Linked DNA regions of Homo sapiens. The protein of the gene in region 3 binds, or shares a complex with, the protein of the main gene of each other region. Each region holds a gene or a part of one and is shown on either strand. Other genes may lie near its edges. The genes, in order: BNIP1, VAMP7, STX7 and STX5.

The links.
Region 1: STX7 (region 3) and BNIP1 share a complex: the UniProt entries of both Homo sapiens proteins name them as parts of the SNARE complex.
Region 2: STX7 (region 3) and VAMP7 share a complex: the UniProt entries of both Homo sapiens proteins name them as parts of the SNARE complex.
Region 4: STX7 (region 3) and STX5 share a complex: the UniProt entries of both Homo sapiens proteins name them as parts of the SNARE complex.

The regions. Positions count from the first base shown.
Region 1 is NC_000005.10:173,140,021-173,147,532, forward strand, and holds the start of BNIP1 (vesicle transport protein SEC20), read left to right. Parts: upstream 1-4,510; 5' UTR 4,511-4,525; coding exon 4,526-4,609; intron 4,610-6,845; coding exon 6,846-6,938; intron 6,939-7,512. UniProt on the Homo sapiens protein: As part of a SNARE complex may be involved in endoplasmic reticulum membranes fusion and be required for the maintenance of endoplasmic reticulum organization. Also plays a role in apoptosis.
Region 2 is NC_000023.11:155,933,331-155,940,353, forward strand, and holds part of VAMP7 (vesicle-associated membrane protein 7), read left to right. Parts: intron 1-6,370; coding exon 6,371-6,463; intron 6,464-7,023. UniProt on the Homo sapiens protein: Involved in the targeting and/or fusion of transport vesicles to their target membrane during transport of proteins from the early endosome to the lysosome. Required for heterotypic fusion of late endosomes with lysosomes and homotypic lysosomal fusion.
Region 3 is NC_000006.12:132,447,115-132,454,137, forward strand, and holds part of STX7 (syntaxin-7), read right to left. Parts: 3' UTR 1-7,023. UniProt on the Homo sapiens protein: May be involved in protein trafficking from the plasma membrane to the early endosome (EE) as well as in homotypic fusion of endocytic organelles. Mediates the endocytic trafficking from early endosomes to late endosomes and lysosomes.
Region 4 is NC_000011.10:62,829,044-62,836,707, forward strand, and holds the start of STX5 (syntaxin-5), read right to left. Parts: upstream 3,009-7,664; 5' UTR 2,911-3,008; intron 2,613-2,910; exon of another isoform or gene 2,408-2,612; intron 2,220-2,407; 5' UTR 2,201-2,219; coding exon 1,976-2,200; intron 1-1,975. Other genes in the region: TEX54 (testis-expressed protein 54), read right to left, coding at 3,333-3,707; WDR74 (WD repeat-containing protein 74), read right to left, coding at 3,909-4,088, 4,575-4,631, 4,749-4,894, 5,233-5,288, 5,384-5,484, 6,388-6,489, 6,652-6,798, 6,876-6,993. UniProt on the Homo sapiens protein: Mediates endoplasmic reticulum to Golgi transport.

The DNA.
Region 1 (7,512 bases), on a different chromosome or scaffold from region 3:
AACCCTCTTTGTTTCATGTGAGTGACATTAAGGCCATCAGGAAGCAAAGGGGAGGGGCATGGCCTCCCATGGACTGGTTCTGCATCAGGACTTGATCTCTAAAGACCACTGCTCACAGGATCCTCTGTCAAGATCTTGAGACTGTTAAAGGGCTGGGTGAGCCAGACCAGTATAGTCCTTAGGAAACTAAACCTGTGGATAGCATCCAGTTAGCTGGGTCATTCAGCTGGTGAGCTGTTTAGCCACAGTACAGTGGAGAATTTGAAAGAAAGAAAATGGCTGGGAAATGCTATAATATCCCAGCTAAAAGGTTCAGAGCAGGAAGAAGGTGTTAGAAAGCCCTAGGGGAGGGAGTGGCATTCCTTAAGACTCTGCTAGGTGCTTTTTTGTTACAGGAAACTCAGCTGCTACTCTCAAGCGCCCAATGAGGCTGGTGGTCATGTTCATTTTACAGGAGACAAGACTCAGATGAGGAGACTAGCCCCAGACCTACCTTATATGATTATAGAGCTCCAATTCAACTCCAGTCGGCTTGCTGCACTACAGAAATAATTTGTATTCATCTCTTTGGGATCAGGTCAAGTCACAGGCAATATTTGGAAGGATGTCTCTGTAGCGGGGGATAAAGGCCTTAGAATCTAAAAACCAAAAAGAAAGCCAAAACCTAGCAGATAAACAAAAGCTAGTCTAAGGATCAGTGGGTAAAGGTGATAGGGGAAGCAAAACAGAGTTGAGAGGAATCAGTGATTGCGTGTAATGATCACCAGACTGCACATCTGTTCCTCGAAGATGGCCTCTAGCTTAAGGTTTAGGATTGGGTCCCCTTATTGGAAGGAAGTATATTGGAGGGTAGAGAAAAAGGGAGCTTATGTTTTCTTCTTTAGCTGCAGCATAAGAGATGCAACTGGGGACTGTTGATTGCATATGAATATTCAACAAGAAGCATGATGTGAACGGGGTCCCAAGGGCACGTCTGCAGGTCTGCCAGCTGCTGGCTTTGGGGCTTCTCTGCTGTCCTAAACAGGGGGCTTCTATGTGAGTATCCAAAACACTGGAGTGACCTGAAGAAAGTAAACCTCAGTTTCTTTAAAAGGTTTTAACCTGAAAATATTACCAGGAATAAACTTAACAGAAAATGTATACAAGGCCTAGGATAAAGAAAACTTTGAAAGTACTGTGAAGGACACAGAAGGAAACTGGAATAAATTGAAAGATACACCAAGTTCTTACACAGGAGCAGTGACATAGAACTAACAGTGGTAAGTTAAATTAAAAATATAATATTGCTAAAAAATGTCATCCTAAGAAAACATACCAAGAGGGTTTAAAAAAAAAGTTTACACAGGGATAAAATAGCTGGAAGATGCTGGTAGGCAGTGGGGCTGAGGGGGCAGTGATGCAGGGGACAAGGGGAAGAGTTATTTAATCCTAGCAGATACTAAAAGTCGTTATAAAACCATAATAGTTAAAACTAATTTTGATACATGAATAGGCCAGTCAAGCAGAATAGAAGGTCTAAAAGTAGACTCAAACATATACGACAATTTAGTATGGCAAATGTGGCATCCAGAACCAGTGAGCAAAAGGTAGACTCTTCATTAAATAGTATTGGAATAACTAAGTAACCTCCGGAAAAAGTAAAATTGGGTCTATATCTCACACCATAAGCCAACATATATTTCAAAATAGATAATGATCTAAGTGTAAAAAAAAAAAAAAGCTACAAAAAACCACCCATAAAAACACTACAAGGAAATGTGGGCAATCCCTTTAAATCCCTGTAATTTGGACCACGAATCCAGGAATCATAAACGAAGATTGATAAATTCAATGTAAAACAAGATTAACAAAAACCATAAGCTAAATCAAAGTTCTATAGACTTTTTAAGGCTGTAGATGTCTTTAAAAAAAAATGAAAATAGAAAAGCTTTGAAACTCATCTCTAAGGACTAATCCTCCTAATATATAGAGTTCCTGGAAACGGATATGAAAAAAACCAACAACCCAATAGAACAATGAGCAGACAATAGAATAAATGCAAATAGCTCTGAAGCATAGGTAGAGTTTCTCAGCCTCCTTCATGATCAGAAAAGCATAAACTAAAGAAGGCATTTCTACCTAATCAGATTGGCAAAACTTCCAATGTTTGTTAACCTATCCTGTTGACAAGGCCACGGGAAACAGGCATTTATGCCATGTTGCTGGAGGGAGTATGGATTGACATAATCCCTATGAAGAGCAATTTGGTAATATGTCAGAATTTTTAAATGCATATATCCTTTGACCTAGCAACTCCATTTGCTCTGGGCAAGTCATTATTCCTCTCTGCCCCGTTTTTACCTCACAGAGTTGTTGTAAGAGTTAAGCGAGACACACATGAAGCGCTTAGTACAAAGTTCCTGGCACATAGGAAGTGCTCCCAAAATGTGGGCTAGTAGTAGAATAACAGCAGCTAACGGGCATTGAGATCTTACTATATGCCACATTAGCACACTGTGCTTGGTGCTTTTCATGTATTTTCTCATTTAATTCTCCAACCTGTGAAGTAGGCGCAATTGATTATCACCAGTTAGCTTCCGAGGAGACAGAGGCACAGGCATGCGAAGTGTGTGGTGGACAGGATTTGAGCCCAGGCAGATGCCAAGCCTGTGATACACTGCCTCTCTATTAGGTGCAGTGGGGTGATGAATACCTTACGAGAGGGTGTGTAGAGGGCTGTAGGGACACAGACAAGCACATAGCCCCGCTTACAACAGGTGGGGACCATATTGATTTTTTGGGGAAAAGATGGCTTTCAGTAGAGGCTGTGCCACTTTCTTTCTTTCTTTTTTCTTTTTTTTTTTTTTTTTTTGAGATGGAGTCTTGCTCTGTCGCCCAGGCTGGAGTAGTACAGTGGGGCGATCTCGGCTCACTGCAAGCTCCACCTCCTGGGTTCACATCATTCTCCTGCCTCAGCCTCCCAAGTAGCGGGGACTACAGGCGTCCGCCACCACGCCCGGCTAATTTTTATATTTTTAGTAGAGACGGGGTTTCACCGTGTTAGCCAGGATGATCTCGATCTCTTGACCTCGTGATCCACCCGCCTCGGCCTCCCAAAGTGCTGGGATTACAGGCATGAGCCACCGTGCCCGGCCTAGGCTTTGCCACTTTCAAGATAGGTAATCTTGCAACAGGGTTGATTGTTTTTTGTTTTAATTTACTCTAAGCCCTACTCCTGATCTGTGATAATAGTGTAGTACAATTTCAAGGGTGGTTGTGAGGATTAAGAGAGATGAACATGGTCGGGCACAGTGGCTCACGCCTGTAATCCCAGCACTTTGGGAGGCCGAGGCGGGTGGATCACGAGGTCAGTTCGAGACCAACCTGACCAATATGGTGAACCCCGTGTCTATGAAAAATACAAAAATTAGCTGGGCATGGTGGCACGCACCTGTAATCCCAGCTACTCAGGAGGCTGAGGCAGGAGAATTGCTTGAACCTGGGAGGTAGAGTTTGCAGTGAGCCAAGATTGTGCCATTGCACTCCAGCCTGGGCAACAGAGCGAGACTCCGCCACAAAAAAAAAAAAAAAAAAAGAGAGAGAGATGAACATTCAAGTCCTAAGCCTTTAGGTCCTCACAATCTATGCTTGCTGAAGTGACCCGAACAAATGCAGATGGAGTGGGGTCGAGTGGGGGAAACGCTTTCTAGGGAGAGGGAACACCACATTCTAAGGCTACACATCCAGAAGGAGCTTGAGCAATCCAGGAAGGGCGCAGGGTGCGGTGGCTGATGGCCGGGGTGGCTGATGGCCTTGAGGACCAGCTAAGAAACTTGGATTATTTACTAACAAAAATAAAAGAGCCACCATTTGTTGAGGGTTTGCTCTGACATTTCCATCAAAACTACCTTAGCAAGGTAGATTTAATAAATCCAGTTGTATACAAAAGGGAAACACGAGAAGCCATAGAAGGGCTGCATACAGGTAGGTGACTTGATCAATTTCGTGTTTTACAAAGATCCCTTAGATCATGTGTTGGAGTGATAGGAGGTACTCTACCGACCTGCCTTGAACTCCATACTTTAAAAAATATATGACGTTTATCATTTCCTCTTTTACTCCACAATTTATACTCACTGTAGAAAATATTAAAAATATAAGAAAGTTTGAAGAAACAAAAAATTATTACTGGTACTTTCCAGAGACATCTCAATTGATACTTTTCTTCCAGTCTTTTTTTTTCTATGTAAAAAATATATAGTTATTAGAATGCCTGACAGAAGGAAGATGGAAAGAGACCACTGTGAAGCGTTCTTGATATTCCCTCTTCCCTTCCTCTCCATGTTATTAGGGCCATACCAAGAGGAGAGGCTGATTTCCCTACACGTGTCAGGGAAAGTCCCAACTCTGCGCAGTGACCCTCGCTTGCCATTTTCGCCGGTCTCTAGGGGGCGCTGCCCCGAGACTGGGTGGGGAGGGAAAGAAGGTGGTGCGAAAACGCGTTTGAACTTGGGTCCTGCCGCTGCCCGTAGCCGGCGTCCCCAACATGGCGGCTCCCCAAGACGTCCACGTCCGGATCTGTAACCAAGAGATTGTCAAATTTGACCTGGAGGTGAAGGCGCTTATTCAGGTACTGATCCCGGGACCCCTGCCGGGCTCCAGCAGCCCTAACCCAAGCTCTGCTGGTCTGTGAGCTTGGCAGTGTCACTCCCGAACTTTCCCCACTTGGTTTCCCAGACCACAGGCTCCGCCCCATGGTCGGCTACCCCCCCGGTCCCCATTTGGTTGTGTCCCGGTGACTGCTGGCCTTGATCCTTTTTCCGGGTGCCGCCGGATCTCCCATCCCCAGAGCACCCCACTGTTCTCCGCCCCTGACTCAGCTACTGCTTCGGGGCTCGGCTTTGCCCCTTCCACCTGCAGCCCTGGTCGTCGCCCCGCCCCTGACTACCTCACAACCTACCTGTCACCCTGCTTGGCCCCGCCCTCTGACGCTGCTTCAGCATCCTCTGGTAGCGTCCGGGAGGCAGCTAGCCCCGCCCCCTGCTGGCCAGCTCTCCTGGCATCCAAGGCCACCTGGCACGGGAGGCACCGGGTGAAACGAATGTAACCTGGACCGTAGTTGTGATTTTATGCTTGAGGAAATCGAGTACGGCGCCAAGGCCTAGGTTAGAAGGCATACCTGGGTCAGTGGCAAAACTGGGACCTGGACTGTGAAAGTCAACCTAGGAATAACACCTTAGAGTGTTACCCCGTTTGAACAGATAGGAAATGAAGTGTTTCGCCTTAAGCCATTTAAGGGTAGAGGTAAAATAAACGAGTGGACTTAGGCAAGAATTGGGAGTGTAGACACGGTTCCATGAGTTCAGCAAAAAGAAACCGAGTTTTAAACCTTGTTTTTGCTTGTTTGTTTTTGTTTTTTTGAGACGGAGTCTCGCTCTGTCGCCCAGGCTGGAGTGCAGTGGCGCGATCTCGACTCGCGGCAAGCTCCGCCTCCCGGGTTCCCGCCATTCTCCTGCCTCAGCCTCCTGAGTAGCTGGGACTACAGGCACCCGCCACCACGCCCGGCTAATTTTTGTGTTTTGCTTAGTAGAGACGGGGTTTCACCGTGTTAGCCAGGATGGTCTCGATCTCCTGACCTCGTGATCCGCCCGCCTCGGCCTCCCAAATTGCTGGGATTACAGGCGTGAGCCACCGCGCCCGGCCTAAACCTTGGTTTTTAAAAATAATCATTTTCAACAAAGTCACTAAACATTAGATGTAGACTCAGAGTTTGTAACAAGGTGTGGCAAAAAGTGCAGGAAAATAGGGCTCCCCAGATAAACCAGATGCAGAATAAACCAAATTAGATGCAGAATAAACAAATACGGTGCAAAGAAGTGTGATTAAATGAATAAGCCAGAGAAAAAGTGAAATTTGATGCAGATATTTAAAACTTCTTGAACTTCACTTCTCTGATGTATACATTACAAAACTTCTGGGCCAATTATAGAAAAATAAACAGGTTTCATACAAATGAAATTACATTTTCACATAATCTAAATTGCTTAGGCATTCTTCTGTACTCTTTCTAACATTTGGGTTCTTGTCATTGCTGATGAGAAAGACTGATTATAGCTGGATGTATTGCGTTCTTACCGTTTTCCAGCAGCTCTGCTAAGTGCTTTACATACATACATAATCTATGATGTTCTATGAGGTAAGTAGTGTTGTGATAAGGAAACTCAGACACAGAGAATTTAAATAACTTTCCAGGTAACTTTACACAGCTCATAAGTTGCTACAGCCAGGATTCGAATCCACCTGGTCTGTCTCCAGAGCCTGCCGTGAAAGCTGGCACCAGTAATTCTGAATGTCCAGCAACAGATTCTAAATCTGCCCTTAAACATGTCTATATAAACACTCTAACTTATCACTAATGGTTTGTAAAATCACACTGGAGAAGTTAATCTCATCATATGATGCCAGATATTTAAACATCCTGATCTTCCAAGTTGGAAGGATCTAAGGTTCTAAAGTGATAGTATCACTTTTGCATGTCCATTCTTGTTGGGCATACAAGCTGTTTTAAGCTGTTTCCTACTGGCCAGGTAATGTTTTGTTAAAATTTAGGCACTAAAAATTAGGTCAAAGCAGTTGTGTTTCTTTCTAGGCTTTTATATTAATTCAACATTAATCTAAAAAGGAATGAGAAAAATGTAAATGATAATGTTTTTGCTTGTGTTGCAGAGGTAAACAGCAAAGATCAGGATGAATTATAGTTAGTATGTTAATATTAGTTGGTCTAAACCAACTCTATCACTGTATGGATGGTGTCATTTCATTTCATTGCCTTGAGAAAGGCCTTTCATCTGTTCAATGTCTCCTAGGATATCCGTGATTGTTCAGGACCCTTAAGTGCTCTTACTGAACTGAATACTAAAGTAAAAGAGAAATTTCAACAGTTGCGTCACAGAATACAGGTGGGTATTCTCAATTCAGTCAATGAAGGGGGCTCTGTCCTGGGTATATCCTCTGCTTGAGAGCCGTCTGGGTTCTTCAAACACCAGCTGATGGGAGCAGTAAACACTTAGACAGGGAGGGTGACTCTGTACTAACCTGCTCTCCAGGTAAAAACGAGAAACTTTTGGCCGGGCACGGTGGCTCACGCCTGTAATCCCAGCACTTTGGGAGGCCGAGGCGGGGAGATCACGAGGTCAGGAGATCGAGATCATCCTGGCTAACACGGTGAAGCCCGTCTCTACTAAAAATACAAAAAATTAGTCGGGCATGGTGGCAGGTGCCTGTAGTCCCAGCTACTCAGGAGGCTGAGGCAGGAGAATGGCGTGAACCCAGGAGGCGGAGCTTGCAGTGAGCCGAGATCGAGCCACTGCACTCCAGCCTGGGCGACAGAGCGAGACTCTGTCTCAAAAAAAAAAACAAGAAACTTTTGCATGCAGAACACTGCCAGCTGTGTGAACGAGTGAATGGCAGGAACACCATTATCCTTGGAATTTTTGAAATCCTGGGGCCACTTCAAATACTTTCTCTTCTCTG
Region 2 (7,023 bases), on a different chromosome or scaffold from region 3:
CCTGGACTTTTTTTGGTTGGTAAGCTATTAATTATTGCCTCAATTTCAGAGCCTGTTATTGGTCTATTCAGAGATTCAACTTCTTCCTGGTTTAGTCTTGGGAGGGTGTATGTGTCAAGGAATTTATCCATTTCTTCTAGATTTTCTAGTTTATTTGTGTAGAGGTGTTTGTAGTATTCTCTGATGGTAGTTTGTATTTCTGTGGGATCGGTGGTGATATCCCCTTTTATCATTTTTTATTGCGTCTATTTGATTCTTCTCTCTTTTCTTCTTTATTAGTCTTGCTAGCAGTCTATCAATTTTGTTGATCTTTTCAAAAAACCAGCTCCTGGATTCATTGATTTCTTGAAGGGTTTTTTGTGTCTCTATCTCGTTCAGTTCTGCTCTGAGTTATTTCTTGCCTTCTGCTAGCTTTTGAATGTGTTTGCTCTTGTTCCTCTAGTTCTTTTAATTGTGATGTTAGGGTGTCAATTTTATATCTTTCCTGCTTCCTTTTGTGGGCATTTAGTGCTATAAATTTCCCTCTACACACTGCTTTAAATGTGTCCCAGAGATTCTGGTATGTTGTGTCTTTGTTCTCATTGGTTTCAAAGAACATGTTTATTTCTGCATTCATTTCGTTATGTACCCAGTAGTCATTCAGGAGCAGGTTGTTCAGTCTCCATGTAGCTGAGCAGTTTTGAGTGAGTTTCTTAATCTTGAGTTCTAATTTGATTTCACTGTGGTCTGAGAGACAGTTTGTTATAATTTCTGTTCTTTTACATTTGCTGAGGAGTGCTTTACTTCCAACTATGTGGTCAATTTTGGAATAAGTGCGATGTGGTGCTGAGAAGAATGTATATTCTGTTGATTTGGGGTGGAGAGTTCTGTAGATGTCTGTTAGGTCCGCTTGGTGCAGAGCTGAGTTCAATTCCTGGATATCCTTGTTAACTTTCTGTCTCATTGATCTGTCTAATGTTGACAGTGGGGTGTTAAAGTCTCCCTTTATTATTGTATGGGAGTCTAAGTCTCTTTGTAGGTCTCTAAGGACTTGCTTTATGAATCTGGGTCCTCCTGTATTGGGTGCATAAATATTTAGGATAGTTAGCTCTTCTTGTTGAATTGATCCCTTTACCATTATGTAATGGCCTTCTTTGTCTCTTTTGATCCTTGCTAGTTTAAAGTCTGTTTTATCAGAGACTAGGATTGCAACCCCTGCCTTTTTTTGTTTTCCATTTGCTTGGTAGATCTTCCTGCATCCCTTTATTTTGAGCCTATGTGTGTCTCTGCACATGAGATGGATTTCCTGAATACAGCACACTGATGGGTCTTTACTCTTTATCTAATTTGCCAGTCTGTGTCTTTTAATTGGAGCATTTAGCCCATTTACATTTAAGGTTGATACTGTTATGTGTGAATTTGATCCTGTCATTATGATGCTAGCTGGTTATTTTGCTCGTTAGTTGATGCAGTTTCTTCCTAGCCTTGATGGTCTTTACAATTTGGCATGTTTTTCCAGTGGCTGGTATGTGTTGTTCCTTTCCATGTTTAGTGCTTCCTTCAGGAGCTCTTGTAAGGCAGGCCTGGTGGTGACAAAATCTCTCAGCATTTGCTTGTCTGTAAAGGATTTTATTTTTCCTTCACCTATGAAGCTTAGTTTGGCTGGATATGAAATTCTGGGTTGAAAATTCTTTTCTTTAAGAATTTTGGATATTGGCCCCCACTCTCTTCTGGCTTGTAGAGTTTCTGCCGAGAGATCAGCTGTTAGTCTGATGGGCTTCCCTTTGTGGGTAACCCGACCTTTCTCTCTGGCTGCCCTTAACATTTTTTCCTTCATTTCAACTTTGGTGATCTGACAATTATGTGTCTCGGAGTTGCTCTTCTCGAGGAGTATCTTTGTGGCGTTCTCTGTATTTCCTGAATTTGAATGTTGGCCTGCCTTGCTAGGTTGGGGAAGTTCTCCTGGCTAATATCCTGCAGAGTGTTTTCCAACTTGGTTCCATTCTCCCCATCACTTTCAGGTACACCAATCAGACGTAGATTTGGTCTTTTCACATAGTCCCATATTTCTTGGAGGCTTTTTTCGTTTCTTTTTATTCTTTTTTCTCTAAACTTCTCTTCTCGCTTCATTTCATTCATTTGGTCTTCAATCACGGATACCCTTTCTTCCAGTTGTTCGAATCGGCTACTGAAGTTTGTGCATTCGTCACTTAGTTCTCGTGCCATGGTTTTCAGCTCCATCAGGTCATTTAAGGACTTGTCTACATTGGTTATTCTAGTTAGCCATTCATCTAATCTTTTTTTCAAGGTTTTTAGCTTCTTTGTGCTGGGTTCAAACTTCCTCCTTTAGCTCAGAGAAGTTTGATCATCTGAAGCCTTCTTTTCTCAACTCGTCAAAGTCATTCTCTGTCTACCTTTGTTCTGTTGCTGGTGAGGAGCTGCGTTCCTTTGGAGGAGGAGAGGCGCTCTGATTTTTAGAATTTTCAGTTTTTCTGCTGTTTTTTTCCCTATCTTTGTGGTTTTATCTACCTTTGGTCTTTGATGATGGTGACATACAGATGGGGTTTTTGTGTGGATGTCCTTTCTGTTTGTTAGTTTTCCTTCTAACAGTCAGGACCCTCAGCTGCAGGTCTGTTGGAGTTTGTCGGAGGGCCACTCCAGACCCTGTTTGCCTGGGTATCAGCAGCGGAGGCTGCAGAACAGTGAATATTGCTGAACACCAAATGTTGCTCTCTGATCGTTCCTCTGGAGGTTTTGTCTCAGAGGGGTACCCGCCGTGTGAGGTGTCAGTCTGCCTCTACTGGGGGGTACCTCCCAGTTAGGCTGCTTGGGGGTCAGGGACCCACTTGAGGAGGCAGTCTGTCTGTTCTCAGATCTCAAACTCTGTCCTGGGAGAACCACTACTCTCTTCAAAGCTGTCAGACAGGGACATTTAAGTTTGCAGAGGTTTCTGCTGCCTTTTGTTCAGCTATGCCCTGCCCCCAGAGGTGGAGTCTACAGAGGCAGGCAGGCCTCCTTGAGCTGTGGTGGGCTCCACCCAGTTCGAGCTTCCCGGCAGCTTTGTTTACCTACTCAAGCCTCAGCAATGGCGGGCGCCTCTCCTCCAGCCTCGCTGCCACCTTGCAGTTCAATCTCAGACTGCTGTGCTAGCAATGAGTGAGGCTCCGTGGGTGTGGGACCCTCTGAGCCAGGCGCGGGATATAATCTCCTGGTGTGCTGTTTGCTAAGACCGTTGGAAAAGCGCAGTATTAGGGTGGGAGTGATCCGATTTTCCAGGTGCCATCTGTCACAGCTTCCCTTGGCTAGGAAAGGGAATTCCCTGACCCCTTGTGCTTCCCGGGTGAGGCGATGTCTCGCCCTGCTTCGGCTCACGCTCGGTGGGCTGCACCCACTGTCCAACAAGCCCCAGTGAGATGAAGCCGGTATCTCAGTTGGAAATGCAGAAATCATCCGTCTTGTGCGTTGCTCACGCTGGGGGCTGTAGACTGGAGCTGTTCCTATTTGGCCATCTTGGAACAGGAATCAAAGGAAATTTTTTAAAAATCCCATTTATGATAGCATCAAAAAGAGTACAATAGTTAGGAATAAATTTAACCAAGGATGTAATAATGTGCACACTGAAAATTATAAAACATTGATGAAAGAAATTCAAGAAGACACAAATCAATGGAAAGATACCTTATGTTTATGGATTGGAAGAATCAATATTATTAAAATGTTCATACTGCCTGAAGCAATACACAGATTCAACACAATCCCTATTGAAATTCCAATGGCATTTTTCACAGAATAGAAAAAAAAATTCTAAAATGTGGATGAAACTAGAAGACATTATATTAAGTGAAATATACTAGACACAGATAGATAAATACTGTATGATTTCACTTATATATGGAATCTAAAAAAAATGTTCAGTTCATAAAAGCAGAGAGTAAAACAGTGGTTGACAGTGGGTGGGAGACCTGGAGAGATGTTGGTCAAAGTGTATGAACTTACAGTTGTAAGATGAATAAGTTCTGGATACCGGACATACAGCATGGCAACTATAGTTAATAATAATGTATTGAATATTTGAAATATGCTATAAGAATAGATCTTAAGCATTCTCACCACATACCCAAAAAAGTAACTATGTGAGGTGATGGATATTTTACTTAGCTTGATTGTGGTAATAATTTCACAATGTGTACATTTATCAGAATATCACATTGTATACCTTGAATATATACCATTTTTATTTGCCAATTATACTTCAAGGCAGAAAAAAATAAAATTAGAGTAGAAACAAAAGCTTGGAGGTCTGAAATGTTACTAAAAGTGTAACATTTTCCTTTTTTCAATATTCTTGCCACATGGTGGGTAGGTCCTTTTAGTCTGAAGATTCAAGTCTGTCTTATTTGGGGGATATTTTCTTCAATTAGTCCCTTGATTATTGATCCTTCTCTTTTGGCTGTATTCTCTCCTGTGACTGCTAATAGGTGTGTAAATCAGTACCAGGCACATAATAAGCACATGTTAAATATCTGTTGATCGTATAAATTGATCCTGGATTTGCTTGATCAGTTTTCCGTGTATCTTACATCTTCTTTCATGATTTACAACCTAGACATTTTGCTGTTTTCAGAACAAATTTTTTGAATTGTTACTGCAGAAGCTGCTTTTGCTCATTTATGTTCTGCTTTTAAAAAATTATGCCATTTTATTAAAATATAGTTTTTGGAATGTTGTCATGTTATCTAATTTTTTATGTCCTCTGATGACTTTGTTTAAAATTAGTTCAATTATGTCTTGTATCTGAGGATACTTATTAGAAATTTTTTTATTACTGTTATTCTATCTTGTTTCCCATATTAACTTTGTTCCATTAAGGACTGTTTGTCCCCATTGCTTTTTTTGTCTCCTCACTTTAACTGCTGTTTCTTCTCAAAAGTTCTAGTCAATGCATATATTCTATTCAACATATATATTTAGCTCTAGATGTAATCAGTTTTGGTATGTGCCTCCAGGTGGCATCCTGTGCAGTCTTCATGAAGTGAAACCCAAAGACTGGTGCCCCTGTCAGTTGTTCTACTGCAGAGACTTTGTGGAGTATGTGGTTGGAGATGAATCTATGGTTAAGGGAGTGGATTTTTTAAAACCAATATGTGAAGTATAATATACATAAAGTGCATCAACTGTAAGCATACAACTTGTTGTGTTTTCACAAAGTAAACATACCATGTAGAACCAACACCCAGATTAAGAACTAGAGCACGAACAGTACCCCAGAAGCTCCCTTCTCCCTTCTTTTAGTCACTACTCTTCTCCAAAGGTGGCCACTGTCCTGATTTCTCCACATAGATTAATAAAACATAGCAGGGGCCGAGAGTGGTGGCACACACCTATAGTCCCAGCTACTCAGGAGGCTGAGGTGGGAGGATCGTTTGAGCCCAGGAGGTCAAAGCTGCAGTGAGTCGTAATTGTGCCACTGCACTCCAGCTTGGGCGACAGAGCAAGACCCTGTCTCAAGATAAATAATAAAATATAGCAGGTATTCTGTTTATGTCAAGTTTCTATTGCTCAAAATGATGTTTGTGAGATTCATCTGTGGTAAATTGTATAAATGTAGTAGTAGATTGTGAATTGTCATTACTGTATTGTATTCCATGTTATGACTCTCCTGTAATTTATGCATTGCACAGTTGATGGGCATTTGGGTGGTTTCCAGTTTAAGGTATGAAAAGTAGTGCTGTCCAAAACATTTTTTTATATGTCTTTTGGTGAATTTGCATACATCTGTGGGACCATACCAGAGTGGATTGCTGGATTATTAGGGAGTTTTGTTGGTTGGTTGTTTGCCATTTTGTTTTAAACTCCTTGTGTCCTGGTGGGAATTGTTCAGTAGATACTGAGAAATTGATGATGCAAAAGAAAATGGATAGCAGAAGGAATGAAGTTCTATGGGTTTTGGCCCTCACAAAAGTAAATACATATCTTCCTACAGAAATCAAACAGGTTTTTATGGCTCAAAGCCCCGGAATTATACGGGGCAGAATAGGCGAATGTGCTTGCAGTCAGCTGGCTTTAAAAGAGCCTTTCTTATTGGAAGTATAGAGAGGAAAATTCTTTTCCACTAGCGGGAAGAACCACTTCTGGTGCTCAACATCATGTGCATTGCTGCAGTGGAGAAGAAAAAAGAGGGAAGCGTTTTCATTGGGCTCATACTGCTTATGATAGGCCTGGCAGAGTCTTGCTTTTGGCAACTATTGAGTATGAATGGCCAGTCTCTACTTGTAAAGAGAGGTCATTGGACTTAAATGGAATTAATGGAAGTAAAATGTTCTCAGGTTGTTACTGCAAATCATTCATGTAGTCAGTGCCAGGGGTTAAACAATTCTCGCCTCTTTTCTAGTCTGTCACCTTCAAAACTACCAGCAGAAATCTTGCTCGAGCCATGTGTATGAAGAACCTCAAGCTCACTATTATCATCATCATCGTATCAATTGTAAGTTTTTGTCCTTTTAGTGTATGGCTTTATTTTTCAATCTCTAAGAAATTAGGTACTAGAATTATTTCTCAATGATTAACACTCTGAAATGAGCTACATATGTCTTTTAATAGTGAAACACATGACCAGGCAGTGGCTTTCCTATGAAGTCACTATGAAATATCTCTACTTAAACCCCTCCTTCCTATTGAGAATTATTATATATTCTCAATAGGAAGAGATCTATAAAACTGACCTCACAGAAATGTAGTTATTTTAAATAAAGACATTTCTGGTTTATATGTAATGGGTTTATTGTTTTTATTTTTAAATTAATTATGTATTTTTAAAGTTTTAATTTCTAATATGGCAAATGCTGATAATTATAATCCCCCTTAAACAAGAACTCTTTGGAGTCCTCAGTAATTTTTGAGTGTGTAAAGAGGTCCTAAACCACAACTTTAAAAACTATTGCTAACAGGTGGGGGGTGCTTTACCCTGTTCATGGTCAGATAAAGTTGCCTTTCCTCCCCATCCTCCAGTCATGTCCAGAAGCCCAAAGTTACCTCCAAGCAGAT
Region 3 (7,023 bases):
AAAGATACTAATAAGTTTTTGTGCGTGTAACATTTGACACCAGGCTTTTAAGTAAAACACCCTAAGATGGAACTTACTGTGTAGTGGAAAGAGTTAGACTCACTAGACATTGATTAGCTGACTGACATAGAGCGTTTCTTATCAGTCAACAAAACTATTTCCAGAGAGGCTTGAAATAAAACAGTTGACTTTATGTAGATTATGGTTAATATCTTTTGCAGATTTTCTAAGAAATCTTTCCCTATCAGAGGTCCCCAAAACATTCCTTTATCATTTTCCTTCTAAATCTTTTATACATGCTTAAGAAATATGCACATGCTCTAAATTGGGGGAACATGATCCTTTATGTATTAATTGAATCAACTTTGGTTACCATGTTGTTCTATTTACTTTTTTGCTGCTCGAGCTAAAAATTGAGTGACTTCAAATACAACATAATAGTTTTTTTTTCCGTTTTGCCCTCTACATTTTTACTTTAATAACTTTGTTTAGAACTGTTATACCTACTTCAGTTGAAATTTTTATTATTTTTGAGAGTCTCCTTATCCTTATTAATGCTTTTCACTTTAATATTTGTAAGGCTAATACTGATACAGCTATCCTAACCAGGTATATTTGCTTGTTTTATTTTCCCTAATTCTACTTTTTGTCTTTCTCTGTCCTTGTACTGTCTTTTGTAAACTGTATATATTGAACAAGGTAGACTTTTTTTTTTATTAATCTGGTGAGATAGGCAATTTATATTTATTGTAACCATTTATTATATACTATGCCATTTCTTTGCTTTTTCTATGCTTTTTCTTCCTTCTTGCATTTTTGTGGTCTATCAAAGTTGGGATTTCTAAAGTGTTTTTCCCTTATTTCAGAATGTTTCCTCTCTACTGGTTTGAAAGTTATATTGTATTGCTATTCTTTAAAGGTTATCTGAAAATTTTCTGTTAAGTACTTAGATTAACAACATCTAAAGTCATTCATTATCTTAACTTCCATCCTAAAGAGTATCAGGATCTTGGAGCACTCACACTAACTTCTAAGTGCTCCCGGACACTTTCCCCACATATACATTTCCTGAGTTATGTAAAATGTTGCTAGTATTTTAATTACGCTCTTTTTTACTCCACAGAGTAAATACTTCTTAATATAGACAGTATTTATTTACATTTCCCATGATTACTGATTTTTTAGCTCACCATACCTTCTTGCATCTCAGACTTTCCTCCTAGTCATTTTGCTGTACTCTAAAATTCATCTTTATTCTTAAGTGAAAGTCCCTTGTTTGTAAATTCTCATTTTGAGAAAAAAGTGTTTTTAATATACCCTTGATTTTGAAAGATAATTTCACTGGGCACTCATTCTATTGAGTTATTCTCTCAGTACCTTAATGATGTTATTCCACTGTCTTTTGCCTTCCAGTTTTGGCACTGAAAAGTCTACTGTTGGCCAGGTGCAGTGGCTCATGCCTCTAATCCCAGCATTTTGGGAGGCCAAGGCAGGTAGATCACCTGAAGTCAGGAGTTCGAGAACAGCCTGGCCAACATGGCAAAATCACGTCTTTACTAAAAATACAAAAAAATTAGCCAGGTTGTGGTGGCGCACACCTGTACTCCCAGCTACTCGGGAGGCTGAGGCAGGAGAATCAATTGAACCCGGGAAATGGAGGTTGCAGTGAGCAGAAATCACACCACTGCACTCCATCATGGGTGACAGAGCAAGACTCTGTCTCAAAAAAAAAAAAAAAAAAAAAAGGTCTGTCAATTCGTTATTCCTTTAAAAGTGGATAAGTTATTCTGGCTGCTTTTAAGATATCTTTGCCTTTATTGTTCTGAAGTTTGAGTATAATGAATATACATTGGCTTCCTTTTCCTGGTTGATATACATTTTGCTTCTTGTATATGTGGATCCACTTTTTTTTTTTTTAGACAGGGTACAGTGGCACCATCATAGCTCACTGCAGCCTTGAACTCCTGGGCTCGTGTGATCCTCCCTCCTCAGCCTCTTGAGTAGCTGGGACCACAGGTGTGTGCCACCATGCCTGGCTAATTTTTGTATTTTTTGTACAGATGGAGTTTCACCATGTTGCTCAGGCTGGTCTTAAACTCTTGGGCTCAAGTGATCCTCCCACTTGAGCCTCCCAAGTAGCTGGGACTACTGGTTCATGTCACCACATCTGGCTAATTCTTAATTTTTTTTGTAGAGATGGAGTGGGGGCTCTTGCTTCATTTCCCAGGTTGATCTCAAACTCCTGGCTTCAAGTGATCCTTCTGCTTTGGCCTCCCAAAATGCTGTGATTACAGGCATAAGCCACCATACCAGGTCCCAGGCTTTTCTTAGCTCTGGAAATTTGTCAGCAATTACCTCAATTTTTTTCTATTTTTTACTTCTTAGACTCCAATCAGCACATATTAAACCTTCCCATTCTATCCTTCAGGTCTCATAATCTCTAATTCTTATTTTCTATCCCTTTACCTGTTTTTGCTGCAATATGTTGTTTCCTCAGTTAAAACTTGATAGTCAACAATTCCTTTAGTTGTGGTGAATCTGCTCTTAAACCATTCATTATGTTATATATTTCAATAATTAAATTTCATACCTAAGTTGTCTTTGGTTCTTTTTAATATCTGCCTTTTAACACATCTCTCATTTCATGTTCGTTTTAATTCATACATTATTTAAACATATAACTGTTATTCTACTTCTGCTAATTGCAATACCTGAATTCCTTGAATATCTAAATCTACTGTTTCTCAATGCAAATGGTGTGTTTCCTTGCATGTTTGATTAATCTAGAAGCATTAATTAGGGAGGCTTTCCTTCGGAGGGGATTTTCATCCACTTCTTAGAGTAACCACCAGAGTCCACTGACTTAGGACTACTTTAATGCTTTAAAGCATTCCTGGTTTTATGAAGGAATCTTAGGTTCACTTTCTTTACTTTGCCTGGAGTCCATGGCTTAAGTCTCAGAGGCACAGTTTTCCTGTTTCTCAACTACTTTAATTTTAGCCCACTCTCATTGGTAATAGCCTTTAGTGATTATCTTTCTTTCTAATGAGCCAGGAAATGAACTAATATTATGTGTGTTGTATTTTATCCAAGAACTAACTGTATTTTAGCAGGAGGATCCTTGAGTATACCTAGTCAACCATATGGCAGGAAGCAGAAATCATCTACTTCGTAGTTGATTTTGGTAATTTGCATTTTTCATATAAATTATTCATTTTCTGTTTTGTGATATATTGGCATAAAGTTGTTTATAGTGTCTTATTATTTTAAAATCTATGTTTGGTTATTTATCTGTACTTTCATTCCTAAATTTTTTATGTCTTCTGTTTTTTTCCAAATCGGTTTCACCAAGTTATGTGTACTTTATTTATTTAAAGAGACCAACTTTTGTTTAAATTGATCCTCTCAAAAAAAAAAAAATTGATACTCTCTTCTATAGTATAGGTTTATACTCCAGGGGTCAACCAACATTTTCGGTAAAGGGCCAGAAATTTTAAAATTGAAAAATGCAGGAATCAATATGAAACACTTAATTGATAGGCTCAATAGCAGAATGGAAGCTACTGCAGAAAGAATGAATAAATCTGAAGATAAAATGATAGAAATTACACAGTCTGAACAACAGAAGAAAACAGGCAGAACAAAGATGAACAGAACCTCAGGGACTTACGGAACTACAATAAATCTAACATTTGTGTCATCAGAGTCTCAAAAGAAAGAAGAAAGAAGGAAGACTGAAAAAGTTCTTGAAAAAAATGACAGCTGAAAACTCCCCAAAATTGGCAAAAGACATAAACATATAGATGGTGAGAAGACCTCAAATATAATAAACCCCCCAAATCTACAAGATACATCATGGTTAAACAACTAAAAACTAAACACAAAGGAAAAAAAGAAAAAGAAAAAAGACAAATGACACCTATCTATAGGGACCAAAACAATTTAAAAAACTGGATTTCTCATGGGGAACCATGAAATTTTCTTTCCTTTTTTTTTTTTTTGACAAGGAGTCTCGTTCTGTTGCTCAGACTGGAGTACAGTGGTGCGATCTCAGCTCACTGTAATCTCCGCCTACGGGTTCAAGTGATTCTCCTGCCTCAGCTTCCCAAATGGCTGGGATTACAGATGTGCACCACCATGCCGGCTAATTTTTGTATTTTTAGTAGAGGCGGGGTTTCGCCATGTTAGCCAGGCTGGTCTCAAACTCCTGACCTCAAGTGATCTGCCCGCCTTGGCTTCCCAAAGTGCTGGGCTTACAGGCGTGAGCCACCCCTCTTGGCTGGAAGTGGCAGAACAATTTTCAAGTGCTGAAAGAAAAGAACTATAAACCTACAAGTCTATGTCTAATGTAAATATTCTTCAGATATCAAGGGAAAATCAAGACATTTTCAGATGAAAGAAAACTGAGAGAATTTGTTGCCAATGGAACTACAATAATAATAATAAGGCTAAAGGAGTGCTCTAAACAGAAAGGAAATGATAAATGAAGGAGTTTTGGAATATCAGACATCAAAAGTCTAACAAAAAATACAACCAAAAACTCTACATATAAATCTGAGAGCTTAGATGAAATGGACTAATTCATCTAAAAATACAAACTGTCACAACTCAATATGAAATAGATAAATTAAACAGCCATATAACTATTGTAAAAGTGGAAATTACAATAAAAAGAACTCCCTCCCCCAAAATCTCCAGGCCCAGATGATTTCATTGGAAAGTTCTATCAAATGTTTTAAAAAGCGCTGACACCAATTCTATACAATCCGCTTTAGAAAACAGAAGAGAAAGGAATACTTTCCAGTTCATTTTGAAGCTAGTATTACCCTGATACCACCAACCAGTATGTCGCATTAAAACAGATGCAAAAATCCTTAACAAAATATTAGCCAAAAGAATTAAGCTATATATACAAAGATACACCACGACCAAGTGGAGTTTATCTCAGGGATGTAACAATGGCTCAACATTCAAAAATCAATCAATGTATCTACCACATGAATGGGCTAAAGAAGAAAAATGGCATTATGTAAATTAAGGCAGAAAAAGCATTTGACAAAATTCAACATAAAATTCATAATAAAAACTTGCAGAAAAAAAGGAATAAAAGATAACTTCCTTAACTTTAGCAAGAGCATCTACTTTAAAAACCTACAGCTAACATTATACTTCATGGTGAAACACTGAATCCTTTCTGCCTAAGACCAGAAACAAGCCAAGGATCTCTACTCTCACTGCTTTTATTTCTGCTGGAATTTCTACCCACTGCATTAAGGGACTGAAAGGAAAAAAAAAAGGAATATAGGTCAGAAATGAAGAGATAAAACTATTCATTATTTGCAGATGACATGACTATCTATATAAAAAAAAAATCCCAAGGAATCAATCAAAATCCCCTAAAATGAGTAAGTGGGCTCAATAAGGTCTCAGTATACAAAATAGAAAAATTCACTTTATTTCTATGTACTTAGAATAGACATGTGAACAGGAAATTCAAAATACAATGCCATTTACAATCTCTCTCAAAAATTAAATTGCTTAGGTATAAATCTAACAAAACATGTACAGACCTTGTATGCTGAAAACCACACAATACTGATGAAGGAAAACAAAATTTAACTGAAATGAAGTGAAGTGATCCTGTGATCATGATCGGGAAGGCTTAACATGGTAAAGATGTCAAATCTCCCCAAATTGATGTATAGGTATAACATAGTTCCTGTCAAAATCCCAGTAAGATATTTGAATAGATACAGACAAGATTATTCCAAAGTTTATACGGGAAGACAAAGGAACTAAGTGGCTAAAACAATTTTGAAAAAGAAAGTGGAATAAACCAGCCTATTTGATTTCAAGACTTACTACAGTAATCAAGATTTTGGTGTTGGTGGAGGTATAGACACATAGTCTAATGGAAAAGAATAGAAAACCCAGATATAGACCCACACGAATGTGCCCAACTGATTTCTCATTAACTCATTTTTGCTCAACTGATTTTTGACAGAGGTGCAAAAACAATTCAATGGACAAAAAAGAGCCTTTTCGACAAATATCATGTTGGAGTAATTGAATATCCATAGGCAACAACAAAAAAAATGAACCCAGACCTAAGTCTCACATTTTATACAAAATTAACTGAAAATGGAATATAGACTTAAAAGTAAAACGTAAACTATAATACTTTTAGAAAACAACATAAAAGAGAAAATTTGGGGGATCTAAGGAGAGAGGCAAAGTTCTTGATACCAGAAGCATGATCCATAAAAAGAAAAATGGATAGAGTGGACTTCATCAAAATTAAACACTTCTGCTCTGTGAAAGGCCCAGAAAAGAGAAATGAAAAGACATGCTACTGACTGGGAGGAAATATTTGCAAATCACACATCCAACAAAGGACTAGTATCTAGAAAAAAATACACACACACACACACAGAGGCACACACACACATTATTTAAAAGCCCTCAAAACTCAACAGAAAAAAAATCCAATTAGAAAAGACATGAAGAAACATGTCACTAAAGAAGAGATACAGGTGGCAAATAAGCATATGAAACAAAGATGCTCAACATCATTGCCATTAGCGAAGGGAAAATGGTAAATCAAAACTGCAATGAGCTGTCACTATACACTTATCAGAATGACTAAAATAAAAAAGAGACACCACCAAATGCTGAAAAGGACATGAAGCAACTAGATCACTCATACACCACTGGTGGGTATATAAAATAGTACAGCTACTTGGTATAAGTTTGGCAATTTCTTAAAAACTAAACATTCAACTACTATATGACCCAACTACTATATAACTGCTGGGCATTTGACCCAGAAAACTAGATTATGTTCACACAAAAACTTGTACACAAATGTTTATAGCAACTTTATTTATAGTAGCCAAAAACTGGCCCAATGTCTCTCAGCAGGTGAACAGTTAAACAAACTGTGGTACATCTATACTATGGGATTCTATTCACACTAAAAAGTACCTGTCAATAGACTTGATACACATAATAAGCTGGATTAAC
Region 4 (7,664 bases), on a different chromosome or scaffold from region 3:
AAAGAGAGACTGTCTCAAAAACAAACAAACAAACAAACAAACAAACAAACACAAACTGCTTACTCGGGTCCCACTGGGATTGTTGAAAAAAACACTCCCGGCTGGGTACGGTGGCTCACGCTTGCAATCCCAGCACTTTGGAAGGCTGAGGCGGGCAGAGCACCTGAGGTCGGGAGTTTGAGACCAGCCTGACCAATATGGAGAAACCCCGTCTCCACTCAAAATACAAAATTAGCCAGGCATGGTGGCGCATGTCTGTAATCCCAGCTACTTGGGAGGCTGAGGCAGGAGAATCACTGGAACCCGGGAGGCGGAGGTTGCAGTGAGCTAAGATCGTGCCACTGCACTACAGCCTGGGCAACAAGAGCGAAATTCCCATCTCAAAAATAAATAAATAAATAAATAAATAAATAGCACTCCCAAATTTTTTTTAAGAGGAGCTGAGTGCAGTGGCTGACACCTGTAATCCCAGCACTTTGAGAAGATAAAGCAGACGGATCACTTGAGCCCAGAAGTTCGAGACCAGCCTGGGCAACATGGTAAAACCCCATCTCTACTAACAAAACAGAAATTAGCCAGATGTGGTGGCACATGCCTATAATCCCAGCTACTGAGGAGCCTGAGGCAGGAGGGTTGCTTGAGCCCAGGAGGTCAGATGTTGCAGTGAGATGAGATAGAACCATTGTACTCCAGCCTTGGTGACAGAGTGAGACCATGTTTCCAAAAAAGGAGAGAGAGAGGCCAGGTGTGGTGACTCATACCTGTAATCCCAGCACTTTGGGAGGCTGAGGAGGGCAGATCACCTCAGGTCAGGAGTTCAAAGCCAGCCTGACATGGTGAAACCCCATCTCTACTAAAAAAAAATACAAAAATTAGCCGGGCGTGGTGACGGGCACCTGTAATCCCAGCTACTCGAGAGGCTAAGGCAGGAGAATCGCTTGAACCCAGGAAGAGGAGGTTGCAGTGAGCCGAGATTGCACCATTGCACCCCAGTCTGGGCGACAAGGCAAAATTCCTTCTCAAAAAAAAAAAAAAAAAAAAAAGAGAGAGAGGAAGAGACTGGGCCTCGCTCAGCCTTCTAAGTAGCTGGGACTACAGGCACATGCCACCACGTCCAGCTTTTTTTTTTTTTTTTCCTGTAGAAACAGGGTCTTGCTTTGTTGCTCCTGCTGGTCTCTAACTCCTGGCCTCAAGTCATCCTCTGGCCTAGGCCTCCCAAAGTGCTGGAATTACAGGTATGAGCCACCACATCCAACCCTAAGTGATTTTGATACAAATTACTGATCTAGGGCCAGGTGTGGTGTCCAGACCAACCTGGGCAACATAGTGAGACACTGCCTGTACGAAAAAATTTTAAAATTAGCTGAGTGGTGCATCCATGTAGTCCCAGCTGCTCAGGAGGCTGAGGAAAGAGGATCCCTTGAGTCTAGGAGTTCAAGACTGCAAGTGAGCTATCATCACACCACTACACTCCAGCCTGTTGACAGAGTTGAAAAACAGATCTCAAAACAAAACAAAAACAACAAATTACTTATCTAGAAAATGTCCTTAATCTTACAGAGATAAAAACTAATATGTAACTAGATTAACTAATTTTCTCATGGTTACAGAGCAAACTTATGGTAGAAGTATATTGGAAAATTCAAGGTGCATGTTTCTCAGCTAAAGGCTCTTCCTAGAACTTGTTCCTTATTCACACCAATTATATTGCAGCCAAGTACTCTCTGAAGTACTCCCTCCAGAATAGCAATCCTGCCCTCCAAAGGATTCCTCACAAAAAAAAGTCTAAGTCCTTGCCCCTAGTTAGCCAGCCGACCTCTTCTCTGTTGCTTATAGCAGACCCTACAGGCCCCATCCAAGCCTATCAGTTCCATCAGGTACCCCCCAAAATTACTTCGGTTAACAGTGGTGGAGCACAGTCCTTCCTAGATTTGAGTAAGGCTCACTCCTCGCCTTTTCCACTCCAGGTCCTTACCTGACGGGTCTGCAGCGACTTGCAGGCAGACAGAAACTCCTGGGTCCGATCCCGGCAGGACATGGTGTCGGGAGGGGGAGGGACGAGGGTCACTGGGGGGGGCAGAGGGGCGATGTCGCTGCTGCTACTGCCAGCAGTTGCAGGGGACAGGACCTGTGTCTTTGAGAGACCCAGGTAGACACCCTGATCCGTGTTCTTAGACCCGTAGCGTTTCCGCGGGATCATTGAGACGCATAACCTCGGACTGTTGTGGAGGGGAGAGTGTCATTCCCCAGGCAACTTCTTTACCCAAACTCCCCCGCCCCACCCCAATCAACAAATCCCCGAGCCCCTTCTGCACTTCTCGTGGACTTTCGCGCCCAGGACGCTCGCAAATCCTGGGGCGGACCAGCAGCGGAAAGGGCCCCGCTTTTCCCCTGTCCCAAGTCGAACCCGCTTCAGACTCTTCTTCCAACTTGGCTCTGGCGGCCAGAGCGCGGGCCGGGGACCCTGAAGCAGAGACAGGGCCAGAGCCAACCCCGTGGTCCTGAGACTCCGGCCCGGCCCGTGTAACTGCCCCGGGCCCTAACCCAGCCCTTTCGTTTCCGCGGTTTCCTTCGGCCCCTCCGGGAGGGCCAGTGACGGACCTCCAAAGACTGACACACTTCGGTGGGCGGAGGGGGAAAACCTCTGGGTGTTTATTTGAAACAGGAAGTCCCACCCCCCGCCCAAGGTCCGCCTTCTGGAAGACTTCAACCACTCATTAGCTAAGGCCGACGTCTCTCTCAACAGAGGCTTTCCTGATTGGACGGCAAGGAATTCGCTCACCCGGAGCCGGGCCGGCAGGACTTGCCCGCTCGCCCCTGATTCCCTTCCCCCCGCCAGTCGTCGCCCCCGTAAAACCACTGCCCCAGAGCTGACACGGCGGCCAGATCCCCTCTTAAAGCGAATCTTACCTCCCCTCTGCCGCCTGCCGCCGCCGCCACTTCCAATCTCACCGGCCGTCACTGCCTCCTCCCCGAGCACTGAAGCCGCCGAAACCCGACCAAAGACTGGAAGCGGCCACGTCACCTACACGTAACCCCACCCCCAGTGACGAGGGGGCGGTCCCACGCGTTTCAAGCCCAGCGACCCGAAAGACACGCCCCACACCCAAACGCAAGAGCGATCCCGCCCTCCCATTGGCTAAGGCGCCACCGTGACCCCGCCCCAGAGTACTACAGCAGGCGCTCAGGGGGCTGGGCCCGCCTCCGGGAAGGAGCCTTAAAGAACCAGCTGCCCGGTGGTGTCCGCGCCCAGTCCCCCAGAGTGGTCGTGCAGGTATACGTTAGAAATTTTATTCTCTGGAGGTTGGGGCGGACTGAGAGCAGGTCTGGGGTCATCCCTTCTCCGGCTCCTCCTGGTTGCCTTCTCGGATCGGACTCTCCTGCTTCCGAATCTGGTCTGGTTGCCTCTTGCTTGGCCGCGAGGAGCCCCGACGACCGAACGTGGATAGTCGCCGCCACAGCACGGTAATCAGAAGGCTTTCGTTCGACTTGTGATTCGGATGGTCCGGGGAGTTCAAGTCGATATCTTCGGCGCCTGAGGGGACGACGAGGCCTCTGAGCTCACCCCTACCCTCGGGAAGCCCCCTCTCACACTCCCTGGGCCCTCTTTGTGTGTCTGTGGTCTCATCTTCCCTGCCGTCCTCAGACTCTTCCTCCTTGGACTGCTCATCAGACATCTCAAAGTCCTTGTCTTGGCAGCAGCCCATGGCCCCGCGTGGCCCTGGACTCCGTGCCACCCACGCCAGCCTGCCTGCCTCCAGGCCCGGCTTTTGTGACATCAGATATCCCGTCGCCCCAGCTCAGGCAGCCCCCACCCCAAGCTACCCCTCATTCCTTTCTCCCATCACAAAAGGCTCAGGGTCATGGTGGGTGTTCAGCAGTTTATTTACAAAGTGGGCACAGGGGCGTCAGGGGCTGGTGGACCCAGGCCGCTTCTTCTTTCTCCGTCTCGTTTGGAGAGCTCCTTGGGGCTGCTCCAAACCCGAGAGCTTCCGCTTGGCAGCTGCCTCCAAGGATGCCCAAAGTTCATCTGTCTCTGTGTCTTCTAGGGGCACCTTGTTGGGTTCTTGAGGCTCTTGGGGCTCATCCTGGTGAGTGGGAAGAAAGCTTAGGAGTCAGGGGGGCCGGGCACGGTGGCTCCCACCTGTAATCTCAGCACTTTGGGAGACCAAGGCAGGAGGATTGCTTGAGCCCAGGACTTAGCGACCAGACTGGGCAACATAAGGAGACCCCATCTCCACAAAAAGAAGTTTAAAAAAAAAAAAAAAAAAAAAAAAAAAGAAAAGTAGTCAGGGGCACAGGGACAAACCCACAGGGAAGGAGACCCTGGCTGAGAAAGAATCCCTCTGGGTACCACCACCTTTATTCCCTGCTCCTAGAAAGCAACCCCATCCATGCTGTTGGCAATAACCCTCTCAGGATTTTAACTGTTAATGCCTCTCAGAGAAATTAAGTGACCAGGCAGGTAAACAGATAGTCCCAAGTCTGCATTCCAGCTGCCTCCTTTTCCTCTCCATAGGGAGGTCCTCACATCTATGCCCTTGGCTCCCACATTCCCGGGCCCAACTGCTCACCTCCCAGTTGTCCCTGCCTGACAAGAGGAGGCAGTTCAATTGAGACTTGAGATAAACCTGCAAAAGATGAGGGACCTTAAGGAGCCAGGCATGCTGAGACAGAAACATGAACGGAGGGCACAGGAGGCGGGGCCTCCACAAGACCATGAGTTGGAGGTGGGAGAGACAACTTACCTTATGCTCCAGACCCCGTGGATTCTGGATCCTGTGTATCCTCAAGACTCTGTCCAAGCCACAGGAGGCTAGTAGAGGCTTTGAAGGGTGGCACTGCAACCCACGCACACTGCCTGCCAGCCCCTTCAGACAGCCCAGTAGACGCCCTAGAGAAGGGGGGAAGCATCCGTGATAACTGGCTGGCCAATAACCAACCATTCATTGTTTCCTGTTCCAATCACTTTCCATTTCAACATTTAATCTGCAACAAAACCCTGAGACTGGAGCTTCTACTAATATTTCCATTTCGCAGGTGAGGAAACTAAGGCACAGGGAGTTGAAATAATTAGTTTAAGGTCATACAGCTTTTAGGGAAACCAGGATTTAAACCCAGGCAATCTGGCACCTGAATGAGGCCTCACTGGCCCCACTGCACCACCTTAGAGGGAATCCTGACCCTTCTCCCTGCTCCTTCCTTTCCCCCAATGTACCCTAGTCCACTCACCTTGCCGAAGGTCAATTTCTGCCAGCTGCCCATGAGTGTTTCCCACAATCACTGAGCTGAGGATGAGACCAGAGGCAAGTGGGATCAGCAGTAACCTCCTGGAGCCCTTCTCAAGCCCCACCCTCCCACCCCTTCCCCTCTAAACACTCACTTGCCTCCCGGAGTGAGGGTCATGGCTGTTAGTGGGTACTCTCCATAGGTGGTCTCTAGGACTGGCCGGCGCTGGGGGGATGCTGGATCATAAACACGGACCTAGAGGAAGGCTGAAGCATCACAAAAGTATCCTCACCCTGCACCTACCCTCTGGCGTCTCTGCATCCTCACCCCCTCCCTGCACACTGCTTTCTTATTTATGATCCACTCCCAGAAACTTTCTCATCTTAGATGTATGCCTCTTCTCTGAGCATCAGGGTGTCAGGAGAGCTGCTTAGCAGCATAAATGGACAGAGCTGAGGGGAGAGGTCCCCTAGGTTGGAAGTGTGTGAGCATTCCATCCCCCCATACTCCCATCTAGGGGAAATGGAGGGACAGAAAAGCAAGTTGGTCTAGTAGTCAGTAGGTGCTAAATTTCAAGCAGGGGTTAGCCTGAATGAAGGAGGAAAGAGGATGCCCTCATATGTGTTTTGAGCAGAGGCATATGACCAAGATCAGACTTCAATGTGCAGAAGCAAAGAAAATAGGACAAATACAGTGACCCAGCCCCGCCCGTGTCTCAAGACCTCAAATGAGACAAACCATAAAGATTCCCCATTCGGGCCCTTCCTGTAAAGCTGAGGAGCTGAGGCCAGAGATGGGAGGCTCAGGCCTGGGTCCCAAAGCAAATCAGAGAGGCTGCATCAGGACCAGAACCCAGTTCTCTTAACACCCAGCCCAATGTCCTCTGACACCTGCACCCTATAATTCCCACAGTGAAGGGGATCCACTCTCCTTTCCTCTCTTCCAGGTGGGAGGAAAACAGGCATAGTTCAGGAAACTCCACCCTAGAATACAGTAGAGGAAGGTCATGGGCTCAGGGACAGGGTTGGAACAGACGGGGAAGCGCTTGCTCCTCTGAACTCAGAATGGTGAGAAGAGCAGTTGTGTCAAACCGTGGGGGCCATTTCTCCAGGAGGCTGCTTTATCCCAGGAGAAGGCAGGTGTGAGGTGACACCTTACCTGGTGGTACCCTGTGCAGGTGACAAGCTTCTGTGATCCTGGGAGAAACTGTATGTCCTGGTCCCAGATGGGAACCCGCAAGTCCAGCCAGTCATTCCGCACCTGGTGGGGTGGGCAGATGGAGGACAGGGCTATGGGGGGCTCGATGTGCCCCTGTTTTCAGCCCTCCTTCGCCCCCTAAGTCCATCTAGTCTCTAATGCATCGTCAGTGGCCTCAGCCTCCCTCGACTTCAGGAACAGCTCCTTCACACTCTTGTCACTCACGTTCTTGGCCCTGAACACAGGTTCCTCAGAGCCCTGCAGGTCCCATATCTTCAAAGCATTCTCTTTCCCACCTGTGGCAACCACATGGGGGTGTGCTGGGTCTTGGCGCATCCTACACACCCCAGGGCCCACTCTCAGTTCCAGGAGCTGTAAAGAATAGGAGATAAGAGTCCGTTCCAGAGTCCTTAATCCTCCCTTCCCCAGCGTGATCATTAGGCACCTACCCCAGCCCACCTCCCCCAACCATCAGGGCAGGGGAGCCTCACTGGGTCAGAGGATGTGTCCTTGTCCTTGTCATGCCAGACTCTGAGAATCCCAGAATCCACACATGTGATGAGGGTGCTGCAGAGAAAGGATAGAGTTGGGATTTTTTAAGTGCTTAAACTCCTTGTTCTAATCTTTCTCTCCTCCTTACTACTACAGTTGACTAATGTTTAAAGAAAAAAAAAAGTATAAAAGTATTCTCTAGGCCCCAAACTCATATCAACCAGATTCCCTACTAACAGTCCAGTTTAGAAGGAAGCCTCTAGGTCACTGGGCTCTAGGCAGGGCTTGACAGCTTCCAGCTTCCTAATCTGTTAATTCAACTTTCTCAACAGGGTGAGGGTTTACCAAGTGAGGAAATAGAAGCGCTGAGAAACTAATTTGCCACTCAGCTATGTTACAACCACAGCTAGAAATCAACTCTGTGATATTCCAGAGTGCTTTTGCTGTTCACAGCTATGTCTAGCATCTGGCTGTACTGGTCTGTCTGAATCTTGAGTTGCTTACTAGGGCTGGTCTGAATTTAGGGCTTGGTCAAAGTCAAACACCAACTTCTTGGGTTCCTTGCTCTGAGTTTCAGGCACTAAATGTCAGTCTCTTGCTTAAAATATCCCTCCCGAGAAGTCCAAGCAAGTCTCTCCCCAGGATCTGCACAGCCTGCGCCTATGTTCTTTCTCACACCTGCCAACCCTCCCTAGCTGGGTTCGGGCTCTGTATCGACTTGCCTGACCTGTGGCAAAAGTCTCCCA